Regions from separate parts of the Homo sapiens genome. Here region 1 is linked to region 2. Evidence: fine-mapped expression QTL. A gene starts in region 2. The other region holds a variant in brackets. All regions are shown on one strand. Distances are from middle to middle. Region 1 overlaps MOBP (myelin associated oligodendrocyte basic protein). Region 2 holds the start of SLC25A38 (solute carrier family 25 member 38).

The links. PIP is the estimated chance that this variant, and not a neighbour inherited with it, causes the effect.
Region 1: its variant is the best candidate, but not a certain one, in a credible set for the expression of SLC25A38 in lung (TOPMed, PIP 0.66).

Annotation. Positions count from the first base shown.
Region 1 is chr3:39,497,224-39,501,613 of GRCh38, forward strand. All of the region lies in intron 2 of MOBP (myelin associated oligodendrocyte basic protein), which reads left to right. Among named protein-coding and RNA genes, the nearest start is that of MOBP, 32 kb to the left of the region's middle. The variant C/T (reference allele first, on the strand shown) is at 2,200.
Region 2 is chr3:39,381,200-39,385,589 of GRCh38, forward strand. SLC25A38 (solute carrier family 25 member 38) reads left to right here and starts at 2,171. Exons shown (of 7, transcript NM_017875.4): 1 at 2,171-2,594. The coding sequence starts at 2,526. LOC105377644 (a long non-coding RNA gene) reads right to left here and starts at 3,126. Exons shown (of 3, transcript XR_007096252.1): 1 at 3,042-3,126; 2 at 1,754-1,845. RefSeq lists enhancers at 2,480-2,659, 2,680-2,779, 2,790-2,839, 3,310-3,379 and a silencer at 3,070-3,219.

The DNA.
Region 1 (4,390 bases), 120 kb after region 2:
CCATCCCAAGTTTACTATCAGTCCCGGACAGGGACCCTTCTGGCGCTGGCAGAGAAGTCCTGGTTTCTGTTGTTGTGAAGTCTCCAAACTCCATTCTCTATCTTTCTCTTCTGGAGTGATTTGTTTCCCCAACTTTCAGTCTTTGTCACCCTAGGACATAGACTCATGGATCTTTGAGACTTATCCCACCCCTGGGTCCATCTCTAGTCCTCTGAAGTCTAGTCTGGGCCCAGCACCTGGACTCCTATTCCTTGGGAGGAGGGTTGAGTCTATAGGAAGCACAAAACAGTGTTGGACCTGTCTAAAGTGCTTGGGATGCTGGAGTCACACAGATGTGGATTCAAATCCCTTGCTGCCTCTTACTGGCTTATGGACTTAGTCATGTTCTGTAGATTTTCCATCTTTAGTTTGTTAATAATGCCACATTAAAAAATGAGATAAAGTATGCAAAACAACTATACACAATGGTGCTCAGTAAACTGTTACTTCTTCGCTGTTAGTTATTTGCTTTATTAAAGGAAAAACTTTAATAAAACAAATTCAATTTAACAGAGTTTAATTCAGCAAAGAACAATTCACAGATCAGACAGTCCCCAGAACCAGATTAGTTTCAGAGGGACTCCAGGGCCACCACACGGTCAGAAAACATCGATGGACAGAGAAAGGAAAGTGACAAATAGAAACCAAAAGTGAGGTACAGAAACAGCTGGACTGCTTACAGCTGGAATTTGCCTATTTGAACACTGTTGGCTGTCTGTGATTGACTAAAACTCTGTGATTGGTATAAGACTGGGTTACAATGTACCCATCCGGTTAGGTTACGGTTTACTATGTACAAATAAACCGTTAGGTGGAACTTAAAATATGTAAGGATGTGGCTTTAGGCTAAACTTAATTTAACAGCCTGTATTTCCAAGGAATTTACTAGCAATCCTGGTGTGTTATAAAACGATGACTCTGATTTAGCATGTGAGGCTTAGCGTTTTTAAATTGGAGGGTGGCATGGGGCCGATAGTTGGGGAAGCAGTATATAGAACTGCTTAAGCAGGTACCCCAACTAAGTGCTGTATTTCTGCCACCTGGGAAAAGAGTTAGGAGGGCAGTTTTTTGTTGTTGTTGTTTTTGTTTTTATTTTTTTGTTTTTGGAGACGGAGTCTTGCTCTATCTCTCAGGCTGGAGTGCAGTGGCGCGACCTCAGCTCGCTGCAATCTCCGCCTCCCGGGTTCCAGCGATTCTCTTGCCTCAGCTGCCCGAGTAGCTGGGATTACAGGCACGTGCCACCACACTCAGCTAATTTTTGTATTTTTAGTAGACACCGGGTTTCACCATGTTGGCCAGGATGGTCTCAATCTCCTGACCTCGTGATCCGCCCGCCAGTCTTTTCAAAAATATAAACATTTTACTAAAGGAGGGAGAAAACATTATTTTGAAAGTTGGATGCATTTTCAGGTGGTTGTGTTAGGAATGGCGAGGTTCTTCCAGGGAAGAGAATTACTTTTTCCTTCAGGACCATGCATCGATGGATAACTAGAGGTGATGCTGCCCCCTGCCGGACATGGTCGGGGGAGACAGGGAGTGAGGGAAGTTGTCATGGAGTAAGAAACAATTTTCCCCTGAAGTGCTGGGGGAAGAAATGACTGGGCGGGGGTGCAGATGGGCATACAGTGACCCAGGCATTACATCAGCTGGAGCAGTGAGTGGGATTTGAGAATTCAATTAGGGAAGGAATTCAGAGTCACAGTGGGCTTCAAATCTCCTTCTTATCACATACTAGTTATTTCTCAAACAGTTGGAGTAAGAGCTAAATTTTCTGTTATTTGTGACGGGTGCCTGAGCCGTTTGGGAAAAGGTGACCCTAGAAGGCCAGAGGAATTGGGAATGCCTGGGTTGCCTGTGGAGAGTTGAGTAACAGTCTCCATGTGCTGGGCACCTGAAGAAATTACTCCTGAAGGTTAATCCTAAAGTGTTTCACTTCATTATTTCCCATGGGAGGAGAAACTCTAGCTGAACTTCGCGACCTATGTAGGACTTGGGGAAGGGCTTAGCAGACGTTTAGGGTCTTTGCAATGAATCTGACCCTATAAGTCAGCTGCAGCTTCTCATTGGTCTATACATACCTGTCTGGGTAAAGGGCTCCTTTGAATATATCTGATCATCTCCTTTTGAAAATTCAGCAATTTCTCTCCTAGGAGACTGCTA[C/T]TCATCCTACCTTTCTGAATACCCATTACTCCTTCTTCCTGCAGCTTGAAGGCAGGTCCACGCCTCCTCCTGGAAGCCTTCCCTTGACTGACTCCTCGCTGAGTTCACAGGTATCTCATCCGTGCCCGACGTTGTGCCCCCTTCCATGAGGTGAAGCGCTCTCAAAATGAGAGCTTTAGGTCCTGAGTTTAGAATGCCTGTTTCTTCATGGATGTCCTTGGCTCTTTAAACTCATTGTGTCTCAGACCCATGAGATGATCTCCCTCCTTCTCATCTACTTCGACCTCTGATTAGCTGATGGCATGACTGTGTTCCCAGTCACATGGGCTAGACACTTCACCTGCCTCATTGCCTGTGTCCTGGCTCTATTATGTCTTCCAATTCTGCAATGCAGATAGGATGAGGGCTCTCGGGGGTAATGCAATTCACTGTGTATCTGCTTAGGTATCAGTCATTCCCAAGCCCTCATCTTTGGCCAGATGAAATGCCTCTGCCCATGAAGTTTCACCTTGTTCTCTAGCCCAACATATTGCCCTCTCTTCTGTGGACTTTTCATGCCATTGCACCAGCACATTCTCATGTTGCAGAGCATGCTGGCCTTGTATGACACTCACTGATGTCTGTGGACATTCCTCTACCTACAAGGTGAGCTCATTGTGAGCAGGATGTTTATCTGCTCTACCCACTTCCTCATCTCAGTGACTTGTACTTATTTGGTCTCAGTAAATGAAGTTTTTCTGGCCATTAGCACATTATGTGCATTCTAATCACTTACTTGCCTGTATCTCCCACTGGTGGATAAGTTTCTTGAGGACTGGACTCAGCATGATTTAGCTTTGTGTCCAGTATGTGAACTGAGCACTGTGCCAGGCAAAACCAAAGTGTATAGTAAATGTTAAATTAAATGGGTGAAGGTAACTTCATTTATTATTTAGTATTTATTACACCTTAAATAACTCTAACATTAAAAGTTTAGTGTTAAAAAAATGAAAGATTTGCCAAAAGCAGATGAGCCTATAAGGGAAATGGACAAGGAGAGACTAGAGATAGAGGAGGAGATCTAGGAGAATGTGGTGTCACAGGAAAGGAAAGACTTTAGATGGAGAGAGACCAAATATGAAGGCAATTGGTTTAGCAGCATGGAGGTCTGTGGGGAGCTATGTAGAGTCATTTTTCCTTGGGAGGAAAGGGCCAGGAGCCACAGTGGGGTGCACTGATGAGTGAGTGAGTGGAAGATGTAAAGATGGAGGGAAAAAATATTAATACCTTTTCAAGAACTTTACCTATACAAAAGAGGAGGGTAATAGGGAAGCAAAAAGACACGGGAGCAGGATCCAGAGAGGATTTTCTTTTAAAATGGGGCATCATGAGTATGTTAAAAGCTGACAGAATGGGGAAAACTTTCTGGGAAAAATACAAAACCTTTAATAAGATCTAAGATACTTAATTACATAAAACTATTTTTGCATGATAAAATCAAGTGAAACATTGGGAAAGAATATTTTTAACATACATAACAGATGTGACACACAATTTTGATGATCACAAACAGAGGTGCAAAAACAACGTATTTGTAACTGCATTCTACCTGCTTCTCAGCTGTCATTTCTATTTGTAGTAGAAGACAACCACACCAACAGACAAAAAAATTAAAATATCCCCTCAAAGTTATTTAGTTATTGTTCTGTACTCATCCTTAAAAACCCAGATTATAGGTTCTGTCTTCAAGGAATCCATCCTTTTTCCATGCTTTGTACACACTTGTATTGGCCAACATAACAGTGTTTTGTAATTACATACTGCACATATGCATCTCCAACCTGACCCTGAGTTTGTTGAGAGCAGAGACATTCTCAGTATCCAGTTTATGCCCATTAACTAAGTTGATTCCTGTTGATTGATAGTCACGTAAGTCCCCTGTGGGCTTCGGTGTTTTGCAGTGTTAGGTAGGACTATTTCTGCATCTGTCACATTCCTAGAAGGACTGTTTTCAGTCTCCAGCAAGCTCCCCTGTTGCCCCTTCTGAGTCGGAACCCACCTTCTCCAAATATAACTATGCTCTGATTTCTAGCACCATCGATTAGTTTTGCCTGTTCTTGAACCTCCTGTACACACAGCTTGTTTTCTTGTGTCTGACTTCTTTTGTTCAATGGTATGTCTGTGAGATCAAAATGTGTTGATGTATGTCAGC
Region 2 (4,390 bases):
ATCCTTGGGATGGGAAAACATCATGTAACCTGATCATACAATCCAGAAAACATGGGCCACTTTGGATCTTTGAGGGACCAGTGTGTAATTGAGGGAAGTTAGGTCATAAGAGCCAAATCACCTTCCCTTGACTGCAGATAAATCCATTAAGGCTTGCCTTATGCTAATGACCTTGTTTTGAATTAAAGTCACAATGTTTTCTTTTTAAAAAAAAAAATTCACTCCTCCAACTTTGCCATTAAGTACTGCTCCAAACCCCCCACTCATCTGCCAATGGGTGATGCTCTTTCCCCATGATCATTATATATCTCTGCATCCCCACAAACATCCAGGGGAGGAGATGTGGGAAAAGAAGGGCCTGTGGGCTTTAGAGTTATGAGTAAGCATGGCAGGAGCAGATACAGAGGAGGGAAATCTGCCAGCTGCCACCCTTGAAAGCCAGCCCATTTCTTCTGAGCCCACAGCCAAGCAGGCATACCTGGAAGGGTGAGGGAGTGGAGGGCCGGCTTTCACTCTAGATCCCACCTGTGTTCCCACACCCAGAGTGGCCAAGAGCAGTCTCTAAAATACGCCAACCCATGATTTCTCAAAAGTAGGGATTCTTGTCTTATGGAATCAGTGCAGCGGGGGTGGGTGTCAGGGTGGAATTAGGTCTTCCTTTAAAAAGAAGTTTCAGTGCATAGTTATCAACATCACTACTGCACAAAGAAAAATAAGCCTTGCAGCTTAGAACAAAGGGTAGCAAAGTATTCAATCACCAGGCAGGTTTGTAATTTTGTTTCGTTTTGTTTTTTGAGATGGAGTCTCGCTCTGTCGCCCAGGCTGCAGTGCAGTGGCACGATCTCGGCCCACTGCAAGCTCCACTTCCTGGGTTCACGCCATTCTCCTGCTTCAGCCTCCCGAGTAGCTGGGACTACAGGCGCCTGCCACCACACCCGGCTATATTTTTAGCAGAGACGGGATTTCACCATGTTAGCCAGGATGGTCTCGATCTCCTGACCTCGTGATCGGCTCGCCTCGGCCTCCCAAAGTGCTGGGATTACAGGCGTGAGCCACCGCACCCGGCCTGTAATTTTTTTTTTTTTTTTAATGTTTATACTTTCCTTAATCCTTTCTGGGAATAACCTCCTCTGGGACCACTTTCCTTCCTGTTCTATGTACCTCAGAAGCACAGGAATGAAGCCTGAAAAAATATTATCTTGCTCCCTAAGTCACTTTCCTTTCTGATCTAGTTCTTGGGTGATGAATGAAGGTGGAAAGTAGCGAAGGTTGCTATGAAAAGCTTGGACTTTATTACCAGGGCCACTGCATTTTCAACAGGAGTGTCAGGATCCCAGCAGTAATGCTTTTCCATGGATCAGCCAGACAGGCATAAGGGGAAGTTGGGAGACCAAAAAAGCCATTGACAGATTCCAGGTGAGCAATAAACCAGAATTTTGACCAACTAGACCAGCGCTGTCCTACAGAAATGTAATGGGAGCCACATGTTAAAGTTTAAATGTTTTACTAGCCACATTTAAAAAGAAACACATGAAGTTATTATTATTTGTTTTAGAGACGGGGTCTTGCTTTGTCGTCCACGCTGGTCTCCAACTCCTTGGCTCCCTCAAGCAATCCTCCAGACTAGGCCTCACAAAGTGCTGAGATTACAGGCCTGGGCCACTGCCCCCGGCCTGAAGTTAATTTTAATATTTCACCTAACCCAATATATCCAAAATATCATTTCAACATATAAAAATTATTGAGATTTTACCTCACCAGTCTTAGACATCCAGCGTGTGGTTTATGCATACAGTACATATCAATTCCACACTAAATTTTCAGCATTTAAAGGGAAATATGGTCCTGAAAAAAAAACAACAAAACAAAAAAACGCCTGTTTAAGGAGAAAGCATTCCACACTGCTTGTTTTAATATAATTAAAATTAATGTATCAATTAATAAATCAATAGCCCACGTTGGCTAGTGGCTGCCTTACTGGGCAGACCAGGTCTGGATTGTAAATACGTTCAGACGTTCCACGCAAAAGCAAAGTTCCCTGCAGACGCTCCATTAAGTTCTGGGTGCAAGGAAGCGCGGATCCTTCAGTTCTGGGCGTTTTCACCAGGTGGCACTCAGAACACCCTCACGTGACAAGCGTCCCACCCGGAAGCGAAATCTCCCCTTCTACAGAGTTCCTCCGGCGCTTCCTCCACCCCGGGATACACAGAACCTCATCTCCTACGGTGCTGAAGCCTGCAGCAGGGCAGGATGGGCAGGAGAGCAGAGCCGCGGAGTCTGCGGCGCGGGTGAAGAGCGGCGCGTAATTCCCGCAGCAAGATTGTTCCGCGCCCGCAGCCCCTGGACTAGCAGGATCCGAACCCCGGCGGCTGCGTGCTTATAGGCGCAGACGTCAGAGAGCCCGCGGCTTAAAGCGCGTCGCCTGGCTAGCGCCACCCCCTAGCCTTCTTCAAGGCCTCCAGGGCTGGGCCCAAGCGCCCGTCGACGGCACCCTGGGCCCAGAGGACTCGCGGGCCTCATCTCCAATGATTCAGAACTCACGTCCGTCGCTGCTGCAACCCCAAGATGTCGGAGACACGGTGGAAACGCTTATGGTGAGGGCACTGCGGGGAAGGAAGGGCAGGGGTCCGAACCGCGGGCTCGGGCCGGAGAATTCGGGGCGTTGCTAAGGCTCGGCTACCCTTTTCCGCGCCCCAGGGTGCGCTCAGGATTTAGGATGCGGCGGGAGAGGAGTCTGACTAAGGGAATTGAGAAGGGGGCAGGGAGTGAGGAGAGGCCAGGAGCTGCAGGCCAGCCCTGGGGGCAGGCGCTGTAGGGCCGATGTCCCGGTAAAGGGCGGAATTGCCGGGGCCTGGACTGGACGCGTGCCGGGGAGTGTGCCCGCGCGGCCCCCACAAGGTGCGAGTAGGCTGCCAGGTGGAAGGGCACCCGGGCAGATTTGGGACGGTCACAAGGCCTGATAATAGCGCTGACGCTGAGAAGCCGTTGATGCCGCAGCGAGCTGGCCGGGTAGCGCTGTGCGCCCGCGGGCGGCGGCCTACCTGGAGGGGCCAGTCGTGGCGGCACCCTTCCAGCCTGTTGGGACGGCGCGTGGTCCCCCAGCGACGCCACGCCTCCTCCGGCGTTCGATTGGTCATCGTGCCCGGGCCGCCGGGCCGCTATTGGTGGAGGCGGAGGCGGGGCTGGCGGCGTGGTTGCCCGGTAGGTGGAGTCGGGGTGCAACCAGTCTTTAGACGCTAAAGGCCTGAGGCCACTGCAGCTGCCGCAGCTCTCCCTCTGAGGTCTTGCGCCCGAGGTAGGGGCGGCTTTTATTTTTTTTTTTAATCCTTAAAGGCGGAGACGGCGGCGGTGGCGACTTTACGTTGACGTCTTTGAAAACCTGCTTACCTTTTTCAGGGCTCTCCAGCCCTCGCCTCCAGATGTGAATTGGACTTAGGATAGTTTTTTCAGGGCAGTAGGAATTGCTTGTGGATCCAGTTTGTACTCTTATGTGCTACTTATTTCGTGTGCGTATTATTGTTTATGCCCTCTTCTTTCTCCCCTTAAAAAGAAACTACTTTTTTATTTACCTTGAATATATTTTTGAGCTTTCTTTTCTTTTTTCTTTTTTTTTTTTTTTGAGACAGAGTCTCGCCCTGTCGCCCGCGCTGGAGTGCAGTGGCGTGATCTCGGCTCAACTGCAACCTCTGACTCCCGGGTTCAAGTATTTTTCCTGTCTCAGTCTCCCACGTTGCTGGGATTACAGGCGTGCGCCACCACGCCCGGCTAGTTTTTGTATTTTTAGTAGAGAGAGGGTTTCACCATGTTGGCCAGGCTGGTCTTGAACTCCTGACCTCAAGTGATCCGTCTGCCTCGGCCTCCTAAAGTGCTAGGATTACAAGTGTGAGCCACCGCGCTTGGCCTTGAGCTACTTTTTAAAAGTTAAGTTCACTCGCAAAGGATGTGTGCCATTCACCATTGACAAAAATCTTAAGACCATTCAGTATTACCTGTTGGGATGGTTTTTGTTGTTGTTGTTGTCTTGTTTTTGCCTATTAGAAGTTGATCTATACTGCTAGTATAAATAACATCTGCTCTGTGCTAATGGACTGGGAAAAGTACAAAGCTAAAAAAGTTATTGGCTCAATAACTTGAGCCAATAACATGTCTAATCACTGTGCTGTGAAATAAAAGACGTTAAGAAGATATTTCCTGCAATCAAGGGTGGGAAGGTCAAGGACAGCAGCAAATTTGTTTTAAAACAAATTCCACACAGCACCTGTGTGAGCACTGGGGAAGCAGCGCCTAACATAACTGCCCAGAAACTAACTGCAGGTCATTCCTATAGCCTTGCTGGAGCAAGGGGCCTGGAGAGAGGTGGGGGAGATTAACCCATCCTGGGATGAGTCAT